5 separate regions of the Homo sapiens genome follow, and regions 2, 3, 4 and 5 are each linked to region 1. The links come from fine-mapping of genetic effects on gene expression. A gene starts in region 1. Each other region holds a variant in brackets. All regions are shown on one strand. Distances are from middle to middle.

Region 1 (6,108 bases):
TCAAGACACCAACACACAAGTGGCTTCGGGGTCTCGTCTCCGTGCACACGTGTTCTCCCCAGGGCTCTGCTCACCGCTTGCTCCTCTTCACGGCTCTCACTGGAGTCCTCAGCCCTCTGTGTGGATGGCGCAGCGTGGACCCCCCGGCCGTCGGTCTCACTGGTCAGCTTCTCACCATCTGCAGGTGGCACATGAGGCCTGTCTCGGGCCCAGGCTCTCTCCAAGGCCATTCTGCCTGCTGCTGGGTTCAGCTGGGCCAGGGACCCACATGGCCAGAGCAGGGCAGGCAGGCTGTGGTGTCTCTCACTAAAGCCTCTCCTTCTCATCTGCTTCCTCTGCCACCAGATGCCCCTCCCCCCAGCAAGGCAACTTCTTCTACACCCCACCTCTGGTGGGGCAGCCCAGGCTGAGCCTTCCAGCAGGCTCTTCCCAACCTCCAGCAGGTGTGAGGGAGGAAAGCCGGGTGGGCCAGCTGGCGTGTGTAGGCACCCACATGCACCTCCATCTGGCCATTCTTGTTGAGTGGCTCTGCCTCCAGGAAGACCCCAGGACTGCCCTGTGCCCTCAGCACTTTCTCTGTGTGCTGGAGTGTTCCACGTCTGCCTCCCTTACCAGAACTGAGAACTCAGGGTTAGTGCCAGGGACTGTAGTCTCTCCTGAAGGATTTGAGCTCTCAAAGTCTGGACTGAGGAACAGGCATGGATGCTGACGCCCAGGCATGGCCCTGGAGCAGAGGGTGGCCCTGGATTGAGTGTCCTTGGGTAGGAGGACCAGGAGGGGCAGAATTGGGGTGAAGAGAAGCATCCCTACAGATGCTCAGATCCCAGGGCGTGGAACCCCCTGGGGCTGCAGTGGGGATGTCTAGGTCCTCAGCTTAGGGAGGTCCAGGAAGTGGAGAGGGCTGGGGTGCAGAGCTGGCCTGCCCAGGCTTGTGGGGAGGCAGTAGAGATGTCCACAGGCAGATCTGGGAAGGGTCCCCCAGGGCTCCCCTGACTTGGGCCCCAGGTCCCCCGACAGAACAGTCTGCTCACTCGCCCTCTCCCTGGGCAGCTGTTGGGCTCCTCTGGTCCTGGCCCTAGCCTCAGAGGTAGCAAGTGTACAGGTGCCCTGGGGCGGAGCTGGCTTAGCCTCAAGGGGTCCTTGGAAGAGGGGTCCCTATGCCTCCGCCCCCTCCTGGTTGGGCTTAGACCCCTGCGCTGCTCAGAAAACCACAGAGGAGCCTGCAGAGGGGGCTGGTTTTGTTCTGTGTCACTGGGCCAGCTGTGGATCCTGCCCTGTCTGCTGATAGCTGGGGTGGGGCTTTTTAGGGATTCAGCAGTATCGGGGGTCTCTTGAGGGTGTGGAAGCTGTGAGGTATGTGGGTTGGGACAAGCCCCAGACCCTTGGCCTGTGTGGGTCCAGGCGTCCCGGTACAGGAAGAGAACACAGGGGCTTTGGCAGGTGGAGTGGCCCAGGAGTCCCCAGCCAGTATCATTGTTCTGCCCCCTCAGGACACCTGGCTCCCTGGAAAAGGCTCAGAGGCAGCCAGCTGGGGTCTCTCCTGGTCTGGGCATGGCACTAACCTCCCTCCTCCAGAGGGGGCATTCTGCCCCACCTTCTCCCCCAACCCCACCGCCAGGCTTTCATCTGCGCCTTCCTGTCTGGAATGCTCTTTCCCCCAAAGGTGTATGTCAAAGATCACCATCTCCAGGAGGCCCTACCCCGGCTGGCTCACCGTGACCCCATCTGCTTTGTTTGTGGGTTGGGGTTGGGAGAGTTTACGCCAGGCTCCCCAAGCTGGGCCCCATCCCTACGCATGGACCCCCACAACACTGGCACAGTTCACCGAAGGCGCCCCCGCCGGGAAGCGTCCCAGCTGCACCGGCCACTTCAGCAAGCCCCGGCCCGGGTCCCCAGCACACAGGGAAACTGAGGCCCTGCTAAGCGGGCAGGGGGTGGAGGCGAGGCCTGAGAAGGCCTCTTGGAAGCCTCAGCAGGGTCTAGGGGCAGAGACTTCCCCAGGAGCCCACCGTCAGCCCCTCACTACCGGATCCAAGCCAGATCCCAGAGTCAGGGACCCTCTCTGGGAGGGTCGCGCGCGTCACTGCCGACGTCATCGAGCGTCCGGGCCGAGCCGAACCGCGCCCCCTCCCCCCAAATCGCAGAGCGGAGAACAGCGGGCGGGGTCTCCGGGAGGGTCGGGCCCAGCCGAGACCTCTGTGCGGTGGGAGGCCCGGCCCGCGCCCCGGGGCCCCCGCCGCCCGCGCCGCCCGCGCCCCCCGCGCCGCCCGCGCCCCCCGCGCCCCCCGCGCCGCCCCCGCCCCCCGCGCCCCCCGCGCCCCCCGCGCCGTACCTCGCCCGTAGCCCAGGCGCTGGCGCAGCGCGCGTCCCTGGCGCACCAGGCCCAGGTGCACGTAGGTGAGCCACGCGGCGCAGCTCAGCAGCAGCAGCAGCAGCAGCAGCTTCATCTGCTTACGGATCTTCTTCACCGGGAGCCGCGGCATCGCGGCCGCCGCGCCCGCCCCAGGCCGCGCTCAGCGGCGCCGCTGCAGCCCCCGGCCCCCGCCCGCCCCGCGCCGCATCCCCGGCCCGCCCCGCCGCGCTCAGCGCCCGCGGCCCCGCATGGTCCTTTGTCCGCCGTGCGCGGCCACCGGGTGCGGCCGCGACCCCCCCAGGCCGCCCTCGGCCGCGGGCCCGGGGTGGGCGGCGGGGGCGGCTCCTCGCGGTGCCCCCCGCCCGGCCGCTCCCGGCTCCGCGCTCCTGGGGCGGCGGCGGGACCGAACAGCATCCACGGCTGCCACCGCGGATCGGGCCCCGGCCGCGCGCGCGGAACCAATCGGACCGAGCCAGGCCGCGGGGAGCCAATGGCGGCGCGCGGGGAGGGGTGCGGGGCGCGGGAAGGCGGGGCGGGGCGCGGGGTGCGGGGCGGAGGAGGCGGGGCGAGGGGAGGCGGGGCGGGGCGGGGGGTGCGGAGGGTGCGGGGCGGGGGGTGAGGGGTGCGGGACGGACAGGGATGCGGGGCGCGGGGCGCGCGTCCACCTGGGCCACGGAGCGCGGGGGCGCGGCACACAGACGCGGGGCTGGGAAGCGCTGGGGCTCGGGGACCGTGGGGGGCGGCGGGGGATGGGCACAGCCTGACTGTGGGGCGGGGCGGCCTCCCGAGAACAGTGACCCGAAGGACTGCAGGCGGACAACACGGAGGAGGGAGGGGAGGGACCCGGGGTCCTGGGGGGCGGGGAATGGGGGCGGGCGAGAGAGGCCGGGGGGCGGGGGGGCCCAAGCACCGGCTTCAGCCCAGGGGTGGGAGTCGTTGCGGGATCTCAGCCTGCAGGGCTGGGGCCGCAGGGGGCCGAGCTGTCTGGGCGGCAGGAGGGGCCTCAGCTGGTGGCCCCCGCCCCACCGAGCGCGGCCTGAGGCAGGTGACAGTGTCGTGCCTCTCACCGGGACCTTGTCCCACTTCGTGCCCTTTCTCACCTGGTCTGCACCAACCCCTGCCAGTCCCTCTGTCCCCCCAGTACTTCCCTTGTCCAGCTGCCAGCGTGACCCTACTCTTCTCCCTCTGTCTGCTCAGCTGTCTCTGGGTGTGTAGCAAACCGCCCAGCTTCAGTGCTGTCCAACAGCAGCGTTCCTGTGTTCCTGTGTCCTGTGGGTCAGGAACTCAGGGCACTCGGGGACAGCTCCTCTCTGCTCCTCGAGGTGCTGGCCTCCGGTGGGAAGACGTGAGTGGTGGGGCCGGCTCCGCGGGACAGGCTGGAGCCATCCAGAGACTTCTGCCCCAAGCCAGTGCACCCTCGGCAGGAATGGCTGGGCTCACCCCGGGTGGTTGGCCAGAGCGCCTGCAGGCTCAGCTGCCAGGGGCAGCCTCCCGGTCCAGCACACAGAGTGAAGCATCTTGGAGTCACCCCTCAGGTTTGCCACATGCCGCACGGCCACCCAAGTTCGTGGGTTGTGGGGACGTGGACCCCACCTCACAATGGAAGATTGCCCAGAAGTTGCCTTCTTAAGACCTCAACTCCTTCCCTCCTTCCCCTCCATCCTCCTCCCCTAACTTCTGAGCACAGAAGCAAGCTGGTTACATCCTGCTGTTCATACCGGCCCTTAAACAACACCCGGTCTCTCAAACCTTCCCCCACCCCATCAGCTCCTCATCTCCTGCCTCCTGCAGTCCACTTTTCATATTTCTGTTATCTGCATATTCATTAAAATATAGTGCCCCACCCCTTTTTGAGACAGGGTCTCACTGTGTCTCTGAGGCTAGAGTGCAGTGGTGCAATCTCAGCTCACAGCAGCCTTGACCTCCTGGGCTCAAGCGATCCTCCCACTTCAGGTTCTTGAGGAGCTGGGACTACAGGCATGCATCACCATGCCGGACTAATTTTTTGTATTTTTTTTTTTAACAGATTCAGGGTCTCACCATGTGTCCCGGGCTGGCGTTGAACTCCTGGGCTCAAGTGATCCTCCCGCCTTGGCCTCCCAAAGTGCTGGGATTCCAGGCGTGAGCCACTGTGCCCGGCCAGTGGTGCTCTTTTATGTGTCTCATTCTGTTTCTCCAAGTCCCATATTTTCTATGTGCATCTGTCTGGCTGTGCGTCTAATGCTTTCCCTCTTTCCACTGCATGGCACCCCATCCTAGGCACATTCATCCAGCCAGTGGACGCTACCTAGTATTCTAGTGTCCTGACGAGCCAGGGACTTAGGGGACACAGCAGTGAGCAAGACAGAAAAGGGCCCTCCTTTCATGGAGTTTACATGTTACTAGGCAGGGACAGACCAGTGAACGCATAGTCGCTTTGCTGGTGGTGAGTGACGTGAAGGAGATGAGCTGGGTGATGGAGGGAGGCCGGCTCCCGCTCCAGGGTCGCTCTCTGGGGAGGCAACGGCTGGCCTGACCCGTAAACAGGTTCTTAGAAGGCAAGTGTTGGCAATGTCGGGAGAGACGTGTTTGGGACACTTCATGGGTCCACAGTCAGAGGGTGTCCCCTGTGGATCCAAAGCATAGTAGGTACAATTGAGGGGCGAGCTGGGATCTGCCGGACGCAGATGCTCCATATGCTACCACATCCGTCTCGGCCCCTTCTGGAGAAGAACGGCCACCGCCTCACTTCGGTGTGACCCAGCCACAGAGGAGAAGGTTCTGGGAAATGGGTCTCCAGCTTAGAATAAGAGAACAACCTGGCCGGGCGCGGTGGCTCACGCCTGTAATCCCAGCACTTTGGGAGGCCGAGGCGGGCGGATCACGAGGTCAGGAGATCGAGACCATCCTGGCTAACACGGTGAAACCCTGTCTGTACTGAAAATACAAAAAATTAGCCGGGCGTGGCGGCGGGCGCCTGTAGTCCCAGCTACTCGGAGGCTGAGGCAGGAGAATGGCGTGAACCCGGGAGGCGGAGCTTGCAGTGAGCCGAGATCGCGCCACTGCACTCCAGCCTGGGTGACAGAGCGAGACTCGGTCTCAAAAAAAAAAAAGAGAGAACAACCTGGCAGGTTCCTCCTCTTGACAACTCAGCACAGACGCACACTTCTTTTAAAAAACACATTTAACTTCCAAATAAAGCAAAAAACAAAGTCATGCTTCTACGTAACATGATGCAAATATTCCAACCAGAAGGGACTGAACAAAAGGTTCGTGTCATGTTATCCACATTTGAGAAGACGATCCTCGTTCTTCTAGTTTCTCTAAGAGCGTTTAACACTTGACACTGCAAAGTGCATGTTGGGGGTTGGATGACACAAATACTGAGATGAAATGTAAAGTTAACTGTTGTTAACGCATTTTATGCAGCTAGGAGGGCAATGGAAGAGGAAAAAAGCAGGAAGAACGGATAATGTCAGTACAAGTGTGACTTGTGTGAGGATAAGAAGTACTCACTTCTACGGTCACCAGGTCGTGGCTGGTACAGTCTTTATGGCCACGCTCTTCCGTCACTCCTGCGTGGTCCCTTTGCCCTCTGCAAGCACCTCTGCTGGTCGTGGTTCACTGTCTGGTGGGGTGACCCAAACGTTCCTTCCCAAAAGGCCTATGCTGTTAGCAGTTTTGCCTTATGGGGTGGTTCTGGTTTTCCAGTGGTGTTTTCTGCAAGGCTTAGAGGAGCTACGTGATATTACAGACGATCTCCTGCCTCCCAAATT
Region 2 (6,108 bases), 21 kb before region 1:
CCGCACCAGGAAGCATGTGGATGGACCGGCCCTCCCCCGAAGCCTGCAGACCCTGGAACTCACCCCCAGGACCCCCTCACCCCCTACAGAGGCCTCCAAAACCCTCTCTGGCTTCTGGGACCCTGGCACCACTGCTCCTGCACCCCAGGCCCTGGGGTGGGAGGCCGTTCCCAGCACATGAGTCAGGGTGCAGGGGGGCGGGGCCGCCCCAGGGGGTTGACTCAGAGGGCCTGCACTCCTGTCAGCGCATGTCAGGCTGGGGCAGGAGCGGGTGTGCAGGGAAGAACCAGGGGTCTGGAAGAGCAGAGGCCTGGATGGAGAGGGAGCGAGGGTGGGGGGCCCCTGGTGGGGGTGGGGTAGTGGGGGGCCCCTGGTGGGGGGGCCCTGGACCAAGCAGGGCTTGTGCCCAGAAGGTCTCCTTCTAGCACCACAGCCAGCAAATGGGCTCTGAGGCCCTCTAGCCTCTGGGACAAGCCCCTGGTAGATGGGGGTGGGGATAAGCCTAGGAGGGCTGGGGGTGGGAGCTGAACATCTATGACAACCTCTGGGCTTCTCTCACGAGCTCATCGGACAGCCTCTGCTTCTCCCTGGACCCTGGACCCTGGCTCTGGGCTCTCCTCCAGGGCAGACCCTTGCCCCCTAGCTCCGTCCCTGGAAGATTTTTGCCTTAATGGGGCTGGGGCAGGGGTCTGGCGTGAGGGCCGGGTCAGGGTTAGGAGGCAGCATTAAGGGTGAGGTCAGTTCTGAGGGGAGGAAGCTGGAGAGTAGGAGTCGGAGGTCAGCGTGGGGGGTTAAAGGGGGAGGGGAAGGTCCACTGAAAGGATGGGTGAGGCCCGGGCTGGGGCCACCAGGTGGGGTCGGGGTGGTGGGGAAGGGGTGGGAGACCTACCCGGCTCGTGGTCCGGATCCCGCCAGCCTCCCAGCTCATCCCAGAGGCCACTGCTGACGGCCGAGGTGTCCAGGACTCCATCCCTGGCCCGGCGCGTGCGGGGCAGCCTCTGCGGCGGGGACAGGACTGTGGGGGCCTCGGAGGGCGGGGTGGGAACGCCCAGCTCATCGGACTGGCTGATTCCCTGGGAGACAGGTTTCGTGTGGAAAAATCCTGGGAGACAAGTTTGTGCGGCGCAGAGCGGGCCTGGAGGTATGTGCCTGGCATGGGCTGGGTCCCGCCCTGCACCCAGGTCCACCCCAGGCCCACCTGGGGCCCTGCAGGGGCCAGGCTGGGCGGCATGAGGGGGAAGCCAGCCTGGAGGGCCTCTGCAGCCCAGTCAGGCCGAAGGGCTCACAAGAGGACTCAGTGAAGGGGCTTCCGTGCGGCTGGAGCTATGATGGGAACGCCGGTACCCCGCGGCCTGCAGGGCCCCCAGGGCCGACTCTGCCCACCTTCCCTCCTCCCCTTGGCAGAGAGGGCTGTGGGTGCCCCCCCCCAGAGCTGCGGCGCCTCCCTGAGGATGCGTGGTGCCCGCCAGGCACAGTTTTGGCAAAGCCAGGAATCTGGGGTGCACCTTCCCTCACTGCGGCCGGGCCAGACGGATGGCGATGCCTGCTAGGCCACCGCTGCAGCTTCCAGCTCCAGGCTCGGCGGAGTCTCATCTGATCCCTGTGACCAGCCCTGAGGGTCGCACTCTCCCTGGAGCCAGCTCCTGACACAGGAGCCCTGGAGGGGGGCTTGACGGTAGGCTTCCTGGAGGAAGCGGTTGTCTGTGGGGCCCGGAATCTGCACGGAGCCTCGGGCCGCTTGGGTGCACAATCAGGTTGAGAGCCTGGAACCTGAGGGCCTCGAAGGGTGAGTGAGCGCTGCTCTTAGATGGGTCCTGGGTGGGGTGTGGCCTGTCAGTCACCTCCCAAGAGGCGGTGGGAGAGGGCGCAGGAGGGCTTCGGGGCATGGTGGGCTCAGCGTGGGGGGCACGGGAGGCGCTCACAGAGAAGGTCGGCTGGGCCCAGGTCGTGGGCAGAGCTGCCAGGTGCGTGCCCGGAGTTGTGGGAGGGCACAGAAGACAAACCTCCAGGGCAGAGCCTGCGTGGGTGGAGGGGGTTGGGGTGGTCGTCTTAAGGAGCAGAAGGGGGAGGATCTGGGGAGAAAGGTGTGAGGACGTTGGAAGCAAAATATAGTCAAAGCCGAATTCAGGAGTGAGCCGGTGCACAGAGAGGCTTGGGAGGCTGCCTCAGGTCCCACCGCCTGCAGGGGCGGGGTTCGGAGTGCATTAGGGGAGCCCCTTGGTGGTTGATGGACCCGGCGTGGGGGCACAGCTCACCCAGAGGCAAGCGTCCTGGCGCTTCCTGTTGGCGCCCACGCTTGCAAACCTTCTGACTTGGGCTCCAGCCAAGTCCAGCCCCTCCACGGAGCCTGCCCGGCTGCCCATGGGCACCACCCCTCACCTTGTGGAGTGTGGCCCCTGCCCCGCGCCTGTGGCTGGGGCAGCTCTGAGGTCTCTGGCCTTGGTCCTTGGCATGGAAAGTAGCTGAGGGGTATGGCCCCTGTAGGCTCTTGGGGGGGACACCTTTCATCTGCACACACCCCGTCCACTGCCGGCCTGTTGGTCAGTCT[G/A]TCCATCTGTCCGTCCACTACTTGTTCGTTCATCAGACGAGTCCCGGGCTCTTGCTATGCCCCCGGCGCTCCTCTGGGGAAGGGGGCGTCTGTCTGAGGCAGGCGGGGCATCTCCCGGGGGTTCTCCTGGGGTCTGGCCTCAGGACCCCGGCGCTCCTCTGGGGAAGGGGGCGTCTGTCTGAGGCAGGCGGGGCATCTCCCGGGGGTTCTCCTGGGGTCTGGCCTCAGGACCCCGGCGCTCCTCTGGGGAAGGGGGCGTCTGTCTGAGGCAGGCGGGGCATCTCCCGGGGGTTCTCCTGGGGTCTGGCCTCAGGACCCCGGCGCTCCTCTGGGGAAGGGGGCGTCTGTCTGAGGCAGGCGGGGCATCTCCCGGGGGTTCTCCTGGGGTCTGGCCTCAGGACCCCGGCGCTCCTCTGGGGAAGGGGGCGTCTGTCTGAGGCAGGCGGGGCATCTCCCGGGGGTTCTCCTGGGGTCTGGCCTCAGGACCCCGGCGCTCCTCTGGGGAAGGGGGCGTCTGTCTGAGGCAGGCGGGGCATCTCCCGGGGGTTCTCCTGGGGTCTGGCCTCAGGACGGTGTGTGGACCCATTCAGTTAGCCCCAAGTGTTCCTCACCAAATTGCAGCTGCTAACAGGTGGCGGCCGCTCCTGTTGCTTTCCTGTTATAAACAGGTGGCGCTGTGGGGCCAGGTCCTCCTCAAACAAGGCGGAGGAGGGAAGTCCTGGGAATCGGGGGCCTGGCCTAAGAAGGTGCCTTCTGAAAGGAAAAAAGCTAACCCCTCCATGGAGAGGTCCCTGTATTCACAAGACTGTGTTGATTCCTGACATGGTGGAGGAAGGAGGCCTGAGATGCCACTCACAGTTGTGCCAAGAGATGGGGAGGGGGGCCCAGATTGGAGAGGAGAACTCTGGAGTCCAGGACGAGGTCCATCCTCCTTCCCTTGACCCCTACAATCCCTGGGGTTCCTGGATGGCAATGGTGGTCTGGACGACTGTAGCTGGGGAGAGGAGGCTGGGGACCCATCAGTCCTGCTGTACCATTTGGGAGACTGGCCCGAGGTCCGGCAACCCACGTCTCCAGGGATGGTCTGTCCTCCAGCGGTCCCCTGTGGGCGGAGGATGACCCAGGTGCCCAGGCAAGAGACTGAAGGCACAAACTGTTTCAGTATAATAAAGAAAATAGAATAAGAATAGTCATAATACAAATTAGATATAGAGATGCTCATGGACAATTATCAATCATTATTATAAACATTATTAGTCATTAGCTTTTAATATTACTCTTTGTTCCATTACTATATAACCTAGGAATAAGCGGTGGGTATAGGGTCAGGTGCTGAAGGGACGTTGTGAGAAGTGACCTAGAAGGCAAGAGGTGAGCCCTCTGTCACGCCAACATAAGGGCCGCTTGAGGGCTCCTTGGTCAAGCGGTAACGCGAGTGCCTGGGAAGGCACCCGTTCCTTAGCCGACCGCGAAAGGGAGTCTCCTTTCCTTGGAGAGGTCGGGGAACACTCTGCTCCACCAGCTTCTTGTGGGAGGCTGGATATTCTCCAGGCCTGGCCCGCAGTCATCCGGAGGCCTAACCCCCTCCCTGTGGTGCTTGAATGATCACACTCCTTGTCCACTTTCATGCTCCTCCCGTACTCCTGGTTCCTCTTTGAAGTTCGTAGTAGATAGCGGTAGAAGAAATAGTGAAAGTCTTAAAGTCTTTGATCGTTCTTATAACTGCATAGAAGACAACACTGATGTATGCTGCCTTTCCTCTCTACTTCGGCTACCTAAGAGGGAAGGGTCACCGTAAGGTGACTTGCTTCACCTTATCACTTAGAAGATTCACCCTCCTTATCCTGCCCCCTTGTCTTGTATGCAATAAATATCAGCGCGCCCAGCCGTTCAGGGCACTACTGGTCTCCGCGTCTTGATGGTAGTGGTCCCCCAGGCCCAGCTGCTTTCTCTTTATCTCTTTGTCTTGTGCCTTTATTTATTACAATCTCTGGTCTCCGCACATGGGGAGAACACCCACTAAGCCCCGTAGGGCTGGACCCTACAGTCCCCAAGGCAAACTGGACAGGGTCAAGGTGGCCTCCCTGCACTGTCTGGAAAGCCCCTCCTGAAGGACCCTCCTCCCTGCACTGTCTGGAAAGCCCCTCCTGAAGGACCCTCCTCCCAGGACTGTCTGGAAAGCCTCCTGAAGGACCCTCCTCCCTGCACTGTGTGGAAACCCTCCTGAAGGACCCTCCTCCCTGCACTGTGTGGAAACCCTCCTGAAGGACCCTCCTCCCTGCACTGTGTGGAAACCCTCATGAAGGACCCTCCTCCCTGCACTGTCTGGAAACCCTCCTGTGGGGCCCTAGCCCAACACATTTGCAGCAGTCACAGGTGTATCTAGGGATCCTGGGGTCCATGAGCCCACAGGGCAGCTGTTAAGAGCCTTTGCCTTCTTCCTATATCTCCTCTCTCTTTTCTGGACTTCCTCCCGGTTCCCACTGGAAAAAACTGAGGTGGCCCCTCCCAGGATGCCCCCAAAGTACCATCTGGTCCCACAGCCCATTCCCGCATCCTCCTTCTGACATCAGGGGCCGCCTGTGCAATGAACTCATCTCCTCATCCCCTAGGACCAGCCGTTCATTGACTGAGTCAGGAGACAGAGAGGCACACTTCACCAAGGCCCCTGCCATCCCCCAGGAAGGCAGTGGGGCCAATCCCTGCTCTACCATGGACAGCCTGGTGCAATCAAGAGGCCCAGCCCCTTTCTCTCATAAGCCCTCCAGCCAAGTGCAATGAGAAGCCCAGTCCCATTCCCTCACAAGCCCTCCAGTATCACATCTGAAAGTGTTTCATCCTCCATTCTCCCATTTTATCACTGGGGTCCCATTTAGGGTCCTCCAATGGTACTGCTATTCATCCAATTGGATAAAGCTTCTCTTCTTCCCTGGCCCTATATAAGATATACAGCTCATCCCCCAAATTCTCTGCCGCTTGCGGGGTGGCCTGCTTTTCAGCAGTCAGGGTTTGATTCAGAAGTAACATGATATCCTTCCAGGAGAGCTCAAATACTTGGGTTAAGTTCTGGAAAGCCTCCATGTATCTGTCAGGGCCATCTGAAAACTTGCCAAGATCCCCCTTAATTTGACTCAGAATGGCCTAAAATGAGGATTTCTAGGCTGGGGAAAGCTTGAGAGAGAACCTGAGTAGGGAGGAGTGAAGGGTTTGATTCCTCCACTGGAGGTGCCTCTGGGGTTTGCTTCTCTATTTCCCTGGGATTGCCTCTTGCAGCCTCTCCTGAGATGGCCACCAGGAGGGCTGGATCAATCCTACAGTAGAGGCAAAGGTCCAAGTTACCCTGCAAGGCAAAGAAAGCCTGCACACACGAGGCCTGGGATCACTGGCCCTCACATTTACAGAAAAGCTTCCTCCCAAGACCATGCTTCCCTTCTGTGTCTTACACTTACAGAAAAGCTTCCTTCCTGAGACCATGCTTCTCTTCTGGGTCTCACGTTTACAGAAAAGCTTCCTTCCTGAGACCATGCTTCTTTTCTGGGTCTCAAGGTGCTTGGCACCAA
Region 3 (5,054 bases), 71 kb before region 1:
TGAGCGGGGGTGAGAGAGGCAAGGCAAGTGGGGGCGTTGGTGCTGGCTCTGTCAGGGGCTCTGTGCCATCCTGCTTCCCCCTAGGACCAGGTGTCATGAGACCCATCTCACAGTGGAAACCCCCTTCCCGGGAACTCCAGCCTAGGAATTCCCCTCTGGCCCCTGACCCGCCATCTGGGCTCCAGGAAGGTGTCCCAGGCTCCAGGGGCTGGGGTACTCTCCTGGCCTGGATGCTGGCTCCGCCCCGACTACACCCAGGCGCGGCAGCTGCAGGACGCTGGAGGAGGAGGAGGGAGGGGCGAGCCCCACGCGGAAGTCAGGTAGGAGCACCCGCCGCTGGCAGCCACTCTCCTGGCCGCCAAACCCCAGCTGGAACTCCGGCCACAGCCAGCATGCAGGTGAGTCCTGCGCTCAAAAGGGTCCACACCTTCAAGGCCCCCAGCCACGCCCACACCTGGGGCCCCCGGCCCCAGCCCCCCGCCAGCCCCACCTGGAAGGCGCCTGTGTGTGTGGGGGGGGTCCCTGCAGGCTGCCCGGTCAGGCGAGGGTGACCGCCCGGCTCAGCTAAGCTGCCTCCTGGACTCCTGGGGCACGCTGGGGGTTGGAAGTGCTGGAGGCGGGCGGCGTTCCTCCCTCCAGCCCGGGATTCTGAGGGCACCAGGGCTGGGCTCTCAGCTAGTGTGTGGGGCCAGGAACCTCTACCAGAGTCCTGAACACGAGATGGAGAGGGCCTGCCCACCGAGGCGGGGGCTGCTGCTGAGGACCCCAGACCTGGCAGCTTTGCCTTGCAGCTGGCCCCTAAGGGGGAGCGGGCTGTGGGCACCAGGCAGGCTGCCCCAGGGTTGGGAGCTGCAGAGTGGCCGGCGGGCTGTGGGCTCTCTGCTCCCCAAGGACCCCGCCCAGCACAGGTGGGGGCCGACTGCTGCTGCTGGATTCCGATTCTGGGGGTGGGCGCTGACTGCTGCTGCTGGATTCCGATTCTGGGGGAGGGAGTGCAGGTGAACACGTAGAAAGACATCCTTTCTCCCCTCTGCCAGTGAAGAGGTCACCTGGGGCCAGGGCCAACACCTGGGCAGGTCAGCACCTGGTCGGCCCAGGGAGGAGGCAGTGGTGAGGTGTGGAGTGAAACCAGCCTCCCTCTCGGCCTGCCAGGGCCTCCACGTGTGGGCTGCGCCGGCGGCCTCTTGCTCCATCTCCGCCCAGGGCTCTCCTCGGCCCTCCACATCCAGGTCTGACACCCTGGCTGCTCAGCCCAGCACCTGATGCCCCTTAGCCTGAGCTCAGGGTCCCCTCTGCCAGCCCCTTCCTCCCATGCTGGGGGTTAGAGGAGAGACTTGGGGCTGGCCAGGGGTTGGGTTGGGAGAAGCAGCACCTGGTTTGTTGGAAGTGAGAGCATCAGTCCTTCAAAAAAGACAGTTGCAGCCGGGCCTGGTGGCGCATGCCTGTGGTCCCGGCTACTCCGGAAGCTGAGGCAAGAGGATTGCTTGAACCCGGGCGTCGTGGCATGCACCTGCAGTCTCAGCTACTCAGGAGGCTGAGGCAGGAGGACTGCTCGAACCCGGGCGTGGTGGCGCGTGCCTGCGCTCCCAGCTACTCGGGAGGCTGAGGCAGGAGGACTGCTGGAACCCGGGCGTGGTGGCATGAGCCTGCGGTCCCAGCTACTCCGGAGGCTGAGGCAGGAGGGTTGCTCGAGCCTGGGAGTTCTGGGCTGTAGTGT[G/A]TTAGGCTGACTGGCTGTCCGCACATCAGTATGGTGACCTCCCAGGAGCAGGGGACCACCAAGTTGCCTAAGGAGGGGTGAACCGGTCCAGGTCGGAAACGGAGCAGGTCAAAACTCCTGTGGTGATCAAAAAGGACAGTTGCAGACATGGGGAGGACTTGCTAGTCCCAGCTCCAGGCTGGATCTGGGCGTGCCTTTCCTCTGCTCTAACCCCTTCCATGGCTCCCCACTGCCCCCTGCTGAAGTCCAAGCTCTCCATTTGGCCAAGAAGCCTAGCAGCCTCCCCTGATTGGCCTCTGCCAACCTCCAGCCTCCCCTTCTGGCAGCTCCCTTCTTGCCCTTTATGCTTCTGCAAAGCTGAAGTACCAAGGACTGAGTCCCTGGACTCAGTTTCCGTAGGTGCCGAGTGCTGAGTCACCAGGAGTAGTAGCTACCAAGTCCTCCTTGGAGGTGCTGAGTGCTGAGTCCCTGGGAGGTGCTGACTGCTGAGTCCCAGACACCAACTGCACCCTGATTCTCAGGGCGTGCCCACACATGTTCTTTCTCCCGGGAATGCTGCCCCCATTTTCTCACCTTTTGCCAACCTCTTGCCCTACAATGCCAAGCTCCATGCCTCCTCACCTGCCAAGTAGGCCCCCGCCCCTGCGTCCACGAACGCCACGCACTGCCTGGGAGGGCTGCACGCAGGTCGCTCCGTCAGTGTCTGGGGATGGACGGGCACACGGATGGGTGAACTGACAGATGACAGACTGGACAGCTGGAGGGGCCGGGGGGTGGGCAGAAGACTGGCTTCAGGAGCGCAGAGCCAGCTGGGGAGGGTTTGCTCAGAGGATGCGTGGGCTGGGCAGAGGCGAGACGCTGTGGCTCACAAGGTGGGCCTCTCCATGCTTGGGACTGCGGTGGGGCAGAAGGGGACCCTCTGTGGATGACGAAACTGTAAAGTTCTCAAGGGCCAGATCCCAGAGGGCTCAGGGCACCGGCCAAGAGGCTTGACGTGACCTCAGGAGGAGATGAGGCCCAAACACCTTCCCATGCACAGCTGGGGGGATGTGCGTCGTGGGACCCCCTGGCCAGGCCTGCTCCTTCTCATGCACAGCTGGGGGGATGTGCGTCATGGGACCCCCTGGCCAGGCCTCTCAGGAGTAGGGTGGGGTCATATCTGCACAACCATCTCCTCTGCCTGCCCCCAACCTGGAGGCTGGACTGGGAAGAGGATGGATGGGCAGGACCCCCAGCTCTGTCCTCACACTCCAGCCCTTGGGAGGGAGGGTCTCCTGCAGGCTACAGTGTCTCCAGAAGCTTCCTCACTGGGAACCAGGGGCTTGCCCACTGGACGCTGGCCTATGCCCACAATGGGGGTGCCAAGAGCCCCCCACAAACTCCCTGGGGCCCTGGAGTACTGGGTGTGTCACCTGTGAGGGCTGTGGGACAGGAAGGATGGGGGAGAACAGTGTGTGGTTCTGTCCACCTTCTTCCTGTGTCTGCACGTCGCTGAGGTGACCTGGGGGCTGGGGTGAGGACACCCTGTTGTACAGACGAGGAAACTGAGGCCTGGGGTGTTTCGGTGGCGTCAGAGCTAGGGCCTGGCCGGCTGTCCACCCAGAGCCGGCCTCCCTCTCTGGGTTTGCAGATGGCAAGGCTGGCTGAAGCTTCAGAGGCCCTCAGACTGAGTGTGTAGGGACAGCCCCTGTCCCTACCCTGGGAGCTGGAAGCCTGTGGGCCCATACATAGTTTCCCGGAGGTGGGGCCCATGGACTGGGGACATGGGGGTCCCAGACATCTCACTGTGGATAAACCGAACAGTCTGCATGGCTGGAAGTGGAGGTGACTTCAGGTGGTCCAGCCCTCACCTGTGAAGACCCCGAGGGTGGTGTGGAGAAGCCAGGCTCCCGTGGTCCGTAAACACTGGCCCTGGAGACGGATGGACAGATGGATGGCCTGGTCCTGTAGGCTGGTGGCTGTGGCCCGGGGGATGGGCCGGTGGGTGTGGCTCCGTAAACACTGGCCCTGGAGACGGATGGACAGATGGACGGCCCGGTCCTGGAGGCTGGTGGGCCCAGTGTTCTGCAGCAGAGTCTCGGAGCCTGAGGCCTGTCTGGCTGTGTGTGTTGGGGGGGCTACACCTGCCTGGCTGTGTGTGTCAGGGGGTGGCTACACCTGTCTGGCTGTGTGTGTCAGGGGGGCTACACCTATCTGGCTGTGTGAGTCGGGGGGGGGCTACACCTGTCTGGCTGTGTGTGTTGGGGGGACTCCACCTGTCTGGCTGTGTGTGTCGGCGGGGGCTACACCTGGCAGCCCTAGTGCTTCTGCCTTGTCCGAGGGAGCAGCTAAGGGCAGCCAGGGGCTGGCACGCCCCAGGTGTGCGTGTAGCTCTGCCCTGGGGGGAGGGCTCCCTGTCAGCCCACGTCAGTGATGGGGGCTTTGCACCCCATTCCCCAGGGGAGGCTGATCCTGCTGTTTGCAGAGGCGTGGGGTCATCACCCCAGTGCTGCACGGTGTCTTTGGTGGGGAGGGGGTTTCTGTGCCTCATTTCTGGGGTGAACGATGGCTTCCCACCCCCACCTTTGAGAATGTTCCCCAGGGACAGTCCCCTCTCCCAGGCTTCTCCGAAAGTCCTGCCTGGTCTGGGGTCCCTGCCTCGTCCCTTCCTTCTCAGGGGTCTGGGCTTATCCTGCCGGCTTTCAACTTTCGGCCCAGGCTGATGTGAGGGGGTCTCTAATTTCAGCCTCTGCCAGAGGAGCTGGGGTTCTGGGCAGAGGAGGGACCCTCATCCTGGGTCTGAAGCCAGGCATGTGAGGGGCCATTCTCCCATGAATCCCTCCAACACAACACTTCCCGGGCCCCTACGGAGGCAAGCTGCAGAGCTGGAGCCGTGATGCCCACGTCCCCCAGACCACCAGTCCCCCCCAGGGAGGCTGCCCTCTGCGCTGAGACAGAGGTGCCTCTCCTGCCTGGGCAGGTGCCACGCCCCTTCCTGCATATCTGTCGGAGGATGAAGGTTTCTCCTCTAACCCAGGACGGGGGAGAAGTTTCAGTGTGGCAGGCCACGCCTGAGTGCAGGTATCTGTCCGTGGGCTGTCGGGAAGGCCAAGGAGGGAGTCAGAGGAAGGGTTGATTGAGGCAGGAAGAACTACTGGTCTAGGATAGGACAGAAGGGCCAGGTGAGCCCCGTGGGCCAACTAGGGCAAGAACTTCCCCCCGCAGGGAGGCTGCAGTGTGGCACTGGGTGCTCAGATGGTGTCTACCTGAGCCCATCTCCCTGTGACCGGGGCGTCGGATGCCTTAGTGCAGTGCTCCCCAACCTTTTCAGCACCAGGGACCAGTTTCGCAGAAGACA
Region 4 (6,070 bases), 29 kb before region 1:
GTGTGAGCGGGGCCGGGGGTGAGCGGGGCGGGTGTGAGCGGGGCCGGGTGTGAGCGGGGCCGGGTGTGAGCGGGCCGGGGGTGAGCGGGGCGGGTGTGAGCGGGCCGGGGGTGAGCGGGGCGGGTGTGAGCGGGGCGGGTGTGAACGGGGCCGGGTGTGAGCGGGGCCGGGGGTGAGCGGGGCGGGTGTGAGCGGGCCGGGTGTGAGCGGGGCCGGGTGTGAGCGGGGCCGGGTGTGAGCGGGGCAGGTGTGAGCGGGGCCGGGGGTGAGCGGGGCGGGTGTGAGCGGGGCCGGGTGTGAGCGGGGCCGGGTGTGAGCGGGCCGGGGGTGAGCGGGGCGGGGGTGAGCGGGGCCGGGTGTGAGCGGGGCGGGTGTGAGCGGGGTCCGGGGTGAGCGGGGTCCGGGGTGAGCGGGGCGGGGGTGAGCGGGGCGGGTGTGAGCGGGGCCGGGGGTGAGCGGGGCGGGGGTGAGCGGGGTCCGGGGTGAGCGGGGCGGGGGTGAGCGGGGCGGGGGTGAGCGGGGCGGGTGTGAGCGGGGTCGGGGGTGAGCGGGGCGGGGGTGAGCGGGGTCCGGGGTGAGCGGGGCGGGGTGAGCGGGGCGGGGGTGAGCGGGGCGGGGGTGAGCGGGGCCGGGGTCAGCGGGGCCGGGGTCGCAGCACCCACCCCACGCCCCGCTCAGGCTGGTGCCCACCTCGCGCAGCCGCCGGCTCTGCGGCGTGAAGCAGCCCACGACCTCTCCCGGCGGCGCCCCCGCCAGGTCCCTGCGGCCGCGACCCTCCAGCCGCTGCAGCGCGGACGGCGGCATCTCGTCGTAGAGGCGGTAGGACAGGTTCCGCAGGACGCACACCGCGTTCTCCACGCTCTGCGGGCGGGGGCGCGGGGCAGGGGCGCGGGTCAGAGCGGCGGCCCGGGGGCACGGCCCCTCCTCCACACCGCGCCCCTCACCTTGTCCTCGCATTTGCCCGCGTCCAGGGCGTGGTTGATAGAGGTGACCAGGGCGTCCACCAGCCCGTGGCACTCCCGCATCTTCTGGCGAGTGGCCTGAGAGGCTGAGCTGAGGTTCCTGGGGACCGAGGTGGATCAGAGCCCCCCAGGGACCCCGCATCCCGGGCCTTGCCCCAACCCATCGTGGGCCCTCGCACGCCCATCCCCAGCGCGAGGCGTGCGGTGTGTGGGCTGCGAACGCCAGGCCAGGCGGAGTCCCCACAGTGACCCGCGCCTGCAATCCCCACCCCGCTGCCCGAGGCTGGCGCACCTGAGGAAGCCGGTGGCGTTGTAGAAGATCTCTGCCTCCGAGGCGTTCTGCTGGATGAGGGGGGGACCCCCAGCCCCCGACAGGGGGCTCAACACCAGGTCTGTGAGCTGCTCCAGCGTGTCTCTGGCCAGGCGGTCCTTCAGGTGGTCGCTGGATGAAAGGTTCCACAGGATCCCTGGAGGACGGGGGAGGCTGCTATCAGCGTCTGCCCTCCAACCCCCTCCGCGTTTCTGGGGATGGTGTGAAGAGGTCCCGCCTCTCCCCAGGGGCTGGCCTGGTGTTCTGTGCCTCACCCACGAGCCCCACTGGGGAGACCCTGGGGTGGCATTTGAGGTGATAGAGCTGGGACCAAGCAAGAGGGGACAAGATGTGGGGGTGGGGTGGTGAGCAGGCCTGGCAGTGCAGGCGGCTCCAAGGAGACAAAACCACAGGACAGGGTGGCCGGGGGTCCAGGAAAGAGGCGGGCAGTGGAGGCCCAAGTAGAAACACGGCCGGCAAAAGGTACAAAGGGACGGAGGGGAACCGAATGAGGTGGAGGGGTCAGAACGGAGGAGAGAGGACAGGCAGAGGAGGGACAGGAGGAGGGGGACAGGCAGAAAAGGGGGACAGGTGGAGGGGGGGACAGGTGGGGGATAGGCAGAGGGGGCAGGTGGAGGAGGGGGGCCAGGTGGGGGGGACACAGAGGGAGGACAGGAGGAGTAGGGGACAGGCAGAGGGGGCAGGTGGAGGAGGGGGCAGGTGGAGGAGTGGGGCAGATGGCGGGCAGGTGGGGGGGTAAGGCAGAGGGGGGGAGGAGGAGTAGGGGGGCAGGTGGCAGAGGGGGCAGGTGGAGAAGGGGGGCAGATGGTGGGCAGGTGGAGGGGGGCAGGTGGGGAGGAAGGCAGGGGGGATAGGCAGAGGGGCGCA[G/C]GTGGAGGAAGGACAGGTGGAGGAGGGGACAGGCAGCACCTGTGACATTTTTGCGAAGCTCATCATCCTGCTCCCGCAGTGTCCGCAGCAGCTCGAAGATCCCGTTCTCCTCCACCAGGGCCAGCTTGTTGTCAGCGTTGTCGTAGATGAGGTTGCGCATGGCACCTGTGGCATGGCGCTGCACTTCCTGGTTGGCGTGGTTGAAGAGCTTCACCAGCCTAGGCACGGCCTGAAGGCTGCGGGCCTGCGGGCACAGGCATATGGGGGTGCACAGACGCATGTGGATGGATGCAGACTATGCACCTGTGTGCAGCTGTGTCCAGGTGCGTAGATGTAGATATGCAGGGGATGCAGCCGTATAGGGAGGTGACGGAGGTGTGTGCGGCGGTAGGGAGGTGACGGAGGTGTGTGCGGGGGTACGGAGGTGACGCAGGTGTGTGCGGGGGTACGGAGGTGACGGAGGTGTGTGCGGGGGTACGGAGGTGACGCAGGTGTGTGCGGGGGTAGGGAGGTGACGCAGGTGTGTGCGGGGGTACGGAGGTGACGCAGGTGTGTGCGGGGGTAGGGAGGTGACGCAGGTGTGTGCGGGGGTAGGGAGGTGACGCAGGTGTGTGCGGGGGTAGGGAGGTGACGCAGGTGTGTGCGGGGGTAGGGAGGTGACGCAGGTGTGTGCGGGGGTACGGAGGTGACGCAGGTGTGTGCGGGGGTACGGAGGTGATGCAGGTGTGTGCGGGGGTAGGGAGGTGACAGAGGTGTGTGCGGGGGTACGGAGGTGACGCAGGTGTGTGCGGGGGTAGGGAGGTGACGCAGGTGTGTGCGGGGGTACGGAGGTGACGCAGGTGTGTGCGGGGGTAGGGAGGTGACGCAGGTGTGTGCGGGGGTACGGAGGTGACGGAGGTGTGTGCAGGGGTACGGAGGTGACGCAGGTGTGTGCGGGGGTAGGGAGGTGACGCAGGTGTGTGCGGGTGTACGGAGGTGATGAGGTATATGTGGGGGTAGGGAGGTGACGCAGGTGTGTGCGGGGGTACGGAGGTGATGAGGTATATGTGGGGGTAGGGAGGTGACGCAGGTATGTGCGGGTGTACGGAGGTGATGAGGTATATGTGGGGGTAGGGAGGTGACACAGGTGTGTGCGGGGGTACGGAGGTGACGGAGGTGTGTGCGGGGGTACGGAGGTGACGCAGGTGTGTGCGGGGGTACGGAGGTGACGCAGGTGTGTGTGGGGGTATGGAGGTGATGCAGGTGTGTGCGGGGGTACGGAGGTGACGGAGGTGTGTGCGGGGGTATGGAGGTGATGAGGTATATGTGGGGGTACGGAGGTGACGCAGGTGTGTGCGGGTGTACGGAGGTGATGAGGTATATGTGGGGGTACGGAGGTGATGCAGGTGATACTGGTGTATCCAAATTGTATCCTTCTGCTCTTCCTCTGCTGAGGGGGCTCCAGACAGAGTGGGGTCTACCCAGTCAGCTTGGGGATCATGAGGGGTGCTCAGTGAGCAGAGGACAGTGGGAGGTGGTGGGGCCCACGAAGGAGGTCACCAGGGGGCAGCGAGTGGGTGGTCGGGGTGGTCACCTGCTTCTTGGCGGCTGCATCGCTGTAGCACTTGTGCTGGATGTAGGCCGCTCCCAGCACCTGCAGGTTGGGGTCTGAAGCCATGAGGTACTTGACTGCTGAGGGCAGGTCAATGTCATCAAAACTGCGGAGCCAGGGGTCAGGGGTCAGGCTAACTTTGGGTTCAGGCTGGGCCCGTGGTAGAAGCCCCCTCCCTGAGCCGGGCCCAGCCGCTCACCCGCTGCTGAGTCTCTGCAGGGTTCGGTGGCTACCGTAGCTGTTGAACCCATGCACGTCCGGCAGGTGGCCCGAGTCAGCCAGGCTGAGGCTGAGGCTGCGCACAGATGGCGCTCGAGCCACTGGCTCCAGGACGGCCCCCGGCACTGCCCCGCCTACCCCGCGGCTCCGGTGGCTGCTCTGGAATCGCTGCAGGGTCCGCACGGCAGGGGCACGGATGGTCCGGCTCGGGGAAACCTCAGTGGCCTCGGGCCAGTCCAGCCCCCCTGCCCGGCTGGAGCTGGAGCTGGCCTGGCGCTCGTACGCAAAGGCCCTGTAGGTGGAGGTGGCCGCGGGCTCCAGCTGCTCAGACACCAGGCTGTAGCGGTCGTCCAGGCCCCCGGGCCCCAGCCGCAGCGAGCGCAGGGAGAGTGTGTCATAGTCGGCCCGGCTCCCAACCCCACCGCGCTCATGGAAGGACACGGGCCTGGTGGGCATGGGAGGGGTGGGCTGGGCACCCCCGTACCCAGCGGCCCCAAAGGCGCTGCCCCCGTTGTGGGCTGAACTCAGCCTCCGACTGCAGCTCAGATCCACGGCGGAGCGGGAGGACCAGGAGGCTGGGCTGTAGGCCGGCTTGGCGATGGGCCGGAAGCCCTGTGGGTCGAGAGGGGGCGGTGAGGGCGTGCCTGGGCTCACCTGTGTCCGGGCCCGCTGCAGAGCCTCCCACTCTCCAGACTGCAGAGCTCAGATCGTCCCCCTCGGGCTGGGCCCATCGCTCACCGAGGTCTTGTCCCCACTCAGGCCCTGAGAGCGAGAGCTGAAGCCAGCCTGCAGGGTGTGGTACTGCCCCCTGGATGTGCCTGTGGAGAGGGACGGTGGTAGCCCAGCTCTGCCACACAGCAAAGCACTGGCCTCCTGCCTCCTCTCCACCACTCCATCGCTATTGGCAACCCTAGGAGCAGCCTCCAATCCAGGGCAGGGAGGCCAGGGGGGCACCAGGGCCAGTGCCTCCCCATTCCTGCCATGGCTTGGTCTCCTCACATGTCAGCCCTGGTGGTCCATCTTCCACAGCCCACCCCCCAGCTGTGCCTCCTCTACCCGAGAGGGCAGATACGCTCACCCACTGACCTCCTGGTCGCCAGGAGGAATGTGCCAGGGCCTCTGACATCAGTTCTCCAATCCTTGCCATGGTACAGTGCCCAGCCTCCTCCAGGAAGCCAGCCTGGCCTGCCCCGGCCCACACTGACTCCTTTTGAGCCCCTCCTGTGCCCAAACCTCATCTGTGCCCGGTCACAGGAGAGTGACACTGTCTCCCTGGACCAGTATGCCCTGTTGCAGTGCCCTGTCCCACCCGGCAGAGCCTGAGGCAGGGGCCACACCCACCCCGTCCAGCCACACACACGCCAAGGGCAGCTGCGTCAGCCCGACTCCACAGTGAGTGGACAGACAGGTGGGTGGGCAGAGGGTGGAGGGCGGAGGGTGGATGGAGGGACAGGCAGGAGGAGGATGGGAGGGCTGCTGTGACTGCTGGAAGGATGGACAGAGTGGTGGATGGAGGGGTGGGACAGCCGTCGACGACAGGGTCCCATGGTTGGATGGTGAGTGGGCAGAGGGATGGACTCGTGGATGGGTGCAGAGAGGATGGGCTGATGGTGGGGGCATGAGAAGGCCCACCAGAGCGACCTGGCTGAGGGGCTCAGGGTGGGGTGCAGGGAAAGGGGCCGTGGCCCTCCCACAACTCTGCCCAGAGCTGGATGCTCTGTGGGGGACACCCCCATGGCAGAGGCCCCAGGTTCACCCTGGTTAATGGGGCTTCTGGGCCGGGGCTATTAACCCTCTGACGCTCGTGAGGCCCAGCCCGGAGTGGGGGCACGCCCCAGCCTGGGGACCTCACCCCCACCCCCCAATTATAATCCACCTCCCTCTAATTGGCAGGGCAGCCAGGGTGGTAATTAACCCTTCCCTCACCGTCCTCCACCCCATGACCCCTGGGCACCCGACTTGGTCACCAGCAAGGCTGAGGCCCCTGGAGGGAGGACCCCACAGTCCAGGCCGCCGGGCCGGCCCCTCCGCTGGGCGACCTTCACTTCCCCCTGGCCAGTGGCTGGAGGCCAGTCCTGGGGAAGGCCCCTCTAAACACCA
Region 5 (4,446 bases), 35 kb before region 1:
TCTTCGAGGCCGAGTCCCTGAGGGCCGGGCCCTGGACTCAGAGGTGGACCCGGACCCTGAGGGCGACCTGGGTATGCCCGCCCAGCCCCACTCCCCAACTGGAGAAGCTCAGCACAGGGCGGAGTGGGGGCAGGCACAGGGCACAGGGCCTGGAGGGGCTCCAGGTGTTGAGGACTCTTCCCGGCACCGGGAGCCCCTGCACGGCCTCTGCCCTGGAGGTGCTCGGCCCTCGGTCTGCCTGGGAACTTCCTGGGCCTCACAGGCCATCACAGCAGGGGGTGAGCAGGGGCAGCCCCTGGCAGTGGGTCTGGGCCAAGGCTGTGGGTGGCCACCTCAGGCGTCTCGGTCTCCCCACCCCAGGTGTCCGGGGGCCTGTCTTTGGAGAGCCATCAGCTCCACCGCACACCAGTGGGGTCTCGCTGGGAGAGAGCCGGAGCAGCGAAGTGGACGTCTCGGATCTCGGCTCGCGAAACTACAGTGCCCGCACAGACTTCTACTGCCTGGTGTCCAAGGATGATATGTAGCTCCCACCCCAGAGTGCAGGATCATAGGGACAGCGGGGGCCAGGGCAGCGGCGTCGCTCCTCTGCTCAACAGGACCACAACCCCTGCCAGCAGCCCTGGGACCCTGCCAGCAGCCCTGGGAAAAGGCTGTGGCCTCAGGGCGCCTCCCAGTGCCAGAAAATAAAGTCCTTTTGGATTCTGCTGGGGCCTCGGTCTCCTCCCTTGCGGCGGAAGGTTTCGGATTCGGCTTCCCTCTGCGGCTCTCTCAGCCTTCCACCCCTCCTCTCTCATCCCCACCCCTCCCTCTCTCATCCCCACCCGCCAAATCACCAAATCTGCCCTCTCTCCATCCCCCTTCCTAAGCCAGCTCAGGCGTGTCCCGTGCTTACAGTAGCCTCCTTGGGCCTCCTTGCCTGGTCCCTGGTTGGGGACGTGACTCTTCCTAGACCCTTCCCATGCAGGCAGATCCTGGATGGGGGCAGGCTCCTTAGAGACCTCAAGTTCTGAGCTTCACAGAAACTTTCTGTTTTAAGAATATCCACAGTAACTTCACAACTAAATGGCCTGGCTCTGGGTGAGATGGATGGGGGTGTCCGAGAGCCCACTGGACCCCAAACCTCAGGCAGCCAGTGTGAGAGCCCCTGGTCCAGGCAACTCCAGGCCCAGGGTGGGCGGCGGAGGAGTTGGGTTCATTTGCCGCATGAGTGTAGCCCACGAGGCAGCCACCCTGTTCCTACTCCAGTCACCCCTCTACTCTCGAGGCCCCCAGCTCTGCTCCGTCTGTGCCTGTGGTGCACCCGCTGTCCACCCTGTCCCCTCTCGGCCCTGAGGTGCCAGCTGTCCCTCTGCTGGGCTCTCCATGTCCTATGTCCTCTGATCTTGGGAGGCTTGTGTGTGAGCCCAGGGGGTGGGTGTCCTCAGGGGCAGGGGGTGCCTGGGGACACCTTGAGTCCCAGGATCATGCTGCCAGCCACAGGGTCGGGCCAGCCATGGAAGGACACAGGGCAGTGACTGTTCATGGCCATCTTTATTCCCAGTGCTGGCTATCCCAAGATACTGCCAGGCCACAGCCAACCCCCACCTCTGCCAATGTGACTGGGTCACCACCCCATACACCAGAGCAGCCTTGAGCCCTGCCCCACCCCCTGCCCTGCGGAAGCCAAGTCCCCAGCTATAAGACCCTGCCCCTCCTGGTGGCCCAGGACCCTCAAAGATGCACACAGGGGCCCCAGCGAGGGGCCCCTCCGTCATTAGCCTTCTCCTCCAGGCTGGGCTGCCAAGCAGCCTGGAGCTGAGTCTGTCCCTTGGACGCTGGGCCACGTCACCTTCTCCTCCAGAAGGCTTCACCTATGGGCCCAGGAAGTCCTCCTTCCGATAGCCCTTCTACAGTGGAGAGAGGCCCAAGGTCAGGGTGCATGTCTGCCCATGTGGCCCTCTGCCCGCTGTCCCTCCTGCAGTGTGCTGGGTGTGGCCCGGACCCTTCCTCTCTGGGTCCCTGGTCTCCATCCTCCCATGGGCCTCTTCACTGACCCTCCCCCGGCGTCCCATGCCCTGCACCCGGGTCCCTGCTTGCCCTGGGCTCGGGAAACGTACCGCCCG[G/A]AAGTCACGGTGGAGCTTGTTGTACTGCCACAGGTTGGCCAGGAGGCTGGATGCTGCCCGGGAGGACTTCTCACTGTCGGGGCTGAGGGTGGAGGGCAGTCAGGAGGGGACACACAGCCAGAAAGCAGGGTGGACTGGGAGGACCCCTGACCAGGCTGCTGCACGGCTGGGTCGGCCCCTACCTGTCCCGCTTCTTCTTGATGAAGATGAGCTTTCGGAGTCCGTCAAAATACAGCAGGTCTCGGGCAGCGATGGGGCTGGCCACCACCAGGTTGTTGAGCACAGCTATGATGTTGACCAGCACCTCGGCTGGGGGCGACTTCTCACCCACGCTGCCCGGCAGCTTCTCGATCAGGTGGCTCACCACCTTCGTGGCTGTGGGAGGCCGGGGGTCAGTCTGCACCCCTACTCCTGGCCACCTGGGCACCTGGGGTCCCCTGCCTCCCCCAGGGAGCTGGACTGGCCCCAGTGGTCTGAAGCCCACACTTAAAGACAAAATTGACATGTGGGTCCAGCAGGGCAGGGACGAGGGGCTGCCCGACTCACACATCTCGTCCTTGTTCCTAGCGTTCCGAGACAGGTTTCGGATGAGGCCAGTCAGTGAGCGCAGCTGGTGGTGGTCGGCGGTCCTGACACGGTCTAGCAGGGGGTTCAGAATACGCTCCTGCTCCAGGGCCAGGCGGCTCAGCACCCCCGCCCACTGTGGGGAGGGAGGGTGTGAGCCGTGACCCGGAGGCCTCAGACCCTCACCTGAGGGGGTCCTGCCACAATGGGGTCGCTGCATCCTCTCGCCACCCTCAGGGGGGCCTCTGCTTCTGCCTTTGCCCCCCAGCCGGGGGGAATCAGCCGCAGCCCGGATCAGGTGCCTCCCTTCAAACCCAGGGCAGGACTTCCATCCTCCCAAGGCCCAAGGCCTGCGCCACCGGGACGCTGACCTCCGAGGCTCCGCGGACCCTGGGCGTCCCCTTCCTCCTCCCCTCCCTCTCCCTCCTCTGTCCCCCCCTCAACCGCATGAACCCCTGGGACCCCCTCGGGTCTGGGTTGGGTGCCCCACCCTGCGGTCGCCTGCCGTGATGTTCTGCAGCGCCCCGGCGGCCGCCTCCGTCGTGTGCCGGTTGAGCTCGCAGCGCTGCAGCAGCCGGTTGTACAGCCCCACGATCTGGGGGCTCCACAGCCACTCGAGGCCCTTGGGGTCCTTGGACACCTCCGCGAAGGTGAGCGCATCGGCGGCGAGGGGCAGCTGCGCAGGGCGGGGAGGAGTCGGCGGGGTCGGGGTGAGCGGGTCGGGGTGAGCGGGTCGGGGTGAGCGGGTCGGGTGTGAGTGGGGCGGGGGTGAGCGGGGTCCGGGGTGAGCGGGGCGGGGGTGAGCGGGGCCGGGGGTCGGGGGTGAGCGGGGTCCGGGGTGAGCGGGGCGGGGGTGAGCGGGGTCCGGGGTGAGCGGGGTCGGGGTGAGCGGGTCCCGGGGTGAGCGGGGCGGGGGTGAGCGGGGCGGGGGTGAGCGGGGCCGGGGGTGAGCGGGGCCGGGGGTCGGGGGTGAGCGGGGTCGGGGTGAGCGGGGCCGGGGGTGAGCGGGGCCCGGGGTGAGCGGGGCAGGGGTGAGCGGGGCGGGGGTGAGCGGGGTCGGGGTGAGCGGGTCGGGGGTGAGCGGGGCCGGGGGTCGGGGGTGAGCGGGGTCGGGGTGAGCGGGTCGGGGGTGAGCGGGGCCGGGGGTCGGGGGTGAGCGGGGTCGGGGTGAGCGGGGCCGGGGGTGAGCGGGGCCGGGGGTCGGGGGTGAGCGGGGTCGGGGTGAGCGGGGCCGGGGTCAGTGGAGCCGGGGGTGAGCGGGGCCGGGGGTCGGGGGTGAGCGGGGTCCGGGGTGAGCGGGGCCGGGGTCAGTGGAGCCGGGGGTGAGCGGGGCCGGGGGTCGGGGGTGAGCGGGGTCCGGGGTGAGCGGGGCCGGGGTCAGTGGAGCCGGGGGTGAGCGGGGCCGGGGGTCGGGGGTGAGCGGGGCCGGGGGTCGGGGGTGAGCGGGGTCCGGGGTGAGCGGGGCCGGGGTCAGTGGAGCCGGGGGTGAGCGGGGCCGGGGGTCGGGGGTGAGCGGGGTCCGGGGTGAGCGGGGCCGGGGTCAGTGGAGCCGGGGGTGAGCGGGGCCGGGGGTCTGGGGTGAGCGGGGTCGGGGTGAGCGGGGCCGGGGTCAGTGGAGCCGGGGGTGAGCGGGGCCGGGGGTCGGGGGTGAGCGGGGTCCGGGGTGAGCGGGGCCGGGGTCAGTGGAGCCGGGGGTGAGCGGGGCCGGGGGTCGGGGGTGAGCGGGGTCCGGGGTGAGCGGGGCCGGGGTCAGTGGAGCCGGGGGTGAGCGGGGCCGGGG

Which allele goes with the higher level. Alleles are on the strand shown, and positions count from the first base shown. SD is a standard deviation of normalised expression in the study named. Not every link is listed here.
For the expression in testis of the gene that starts at base 2,788 in region 1, allele A in region 2 goes with a higher level than allele G (moderate effect, 0.66 SD a copy in GTEx).

Evidence for each region. PIP is the estimated chance that this variant, and not a neighbour inherited with it, causes the effect.
Region 2: its variant is fine-mapped to the expression of B4GALNT4 in testis (GTEx, PIP 0.97).
Region 3: its variant is fine-mapped to the expression of B4GALNT4 in whole blood (INTERVAL, PIP above 0.99).
Region 4: its variant is fine-mapped to the expression of B4GALNT4 in whole blood (TOPMed, PIP above 0.99).
Region 5: its variant is fine-mapped to the expression of B4GALNT4 in whole blood (TOPMed, PIP above 0.99).

What each region holds. Positions count from the first base shown.
Region 1 is chr11:366,179-372,286 of GRCh38, reverse strand. It overlaps B4GALNT4 (beta-1,4-N-acetyl-galactosaminyltransferase 4), which reads right to left and starts at 2,788. Exons shown (of 20, transcript NM_178537.5): 1 at 2,333-2,788; 2 at 75-178. The coding sequence starts at 2,483. RefSeq lists an enhancer at 3,717-4,255.
Region 2 is chr11:387,490-393,597 of GRCh38, reverse strand. It overlaps a transcript of PKP3 not described here. Among named protein-coding and RNA genes, the nearest start is that of PKP3, 3.7 kb to the left of the region's middle. The variant G/A (reference allele first, on the strand shown) is at 2,549.
Region 3 is chr11:437,265-442,318 of GRCh38, reverse strand. It overlaps ANO9 (anoctamin 9), which reads left to right and starts at 308. Exons shown (of 23, transcript NM_001012302.3): 1 at 308-398. The coding sequence starts at 393. It overlaps LOC105376506 (a long non-coding RNA gene), which reads right to left. Exons shown (of 5, transcript XR_007062542.1): 3 at 3,568-5,054; 4 at 2,339-2,420; 5 at 1,646-1,834. It also overlaps the pseudogene RN7SL838P. RefSeq lists an enhancer at 15-284 and silencers at 116-410, 455-534. The variant G/A (reference allele first, on the strand shown) is at 1,718.
Region 4 is chr11:395,326-401,395 of GRCh38, reverse strand. PKP3 (plakophilin 3) reads right to left here. Exons shown (of 13, transcript NM_007183.4): 2 at 4,709-4,788; 3 at 3,951-4,582; 4 at 3,734-3,857; 5 at 2,200-2,404; 6 at 1,255-1,429; 7 at 945-1,062; 8 at 691-861. Among named protein-coding and RNA genes, the nearest start is that of PKP3, 4.2 kb to the right of the region's middle. RefSeq lists an enhancer at 4,484-5,013. The variant G/C (reference allele first, on the strand shown) is at 2,161.
Region 5 is chr11:401,974-406,419 of GRCh38, reverse strand. It overlaps PKP3 (plakophilin 3), which reads right to left. Exons shown (of 13, transcript NM_007183.4): 9 at 3,157-3,342; 10 at 2,649-2,802; 11 at 2,285-2,477; 12 at 2,097-2,184; 13 at 1,512-1,886. The coding sequence ends at 1,851. SIGIRR (single Ig and TIR domain containing) reads left to right here. Exons shown (of 10, transcript NM_001135054.2): 9 at 1-71; 10 at 361-704. The coding sequence ends at 524. Among named protein-coding and RNA genes, the nearest start is that of PKP3, 10 kb to the right of the region's middle. RefSeq lists an enhancer at 205-898. The variant G/A (reference allele first, on the strand shown) is at 2,103.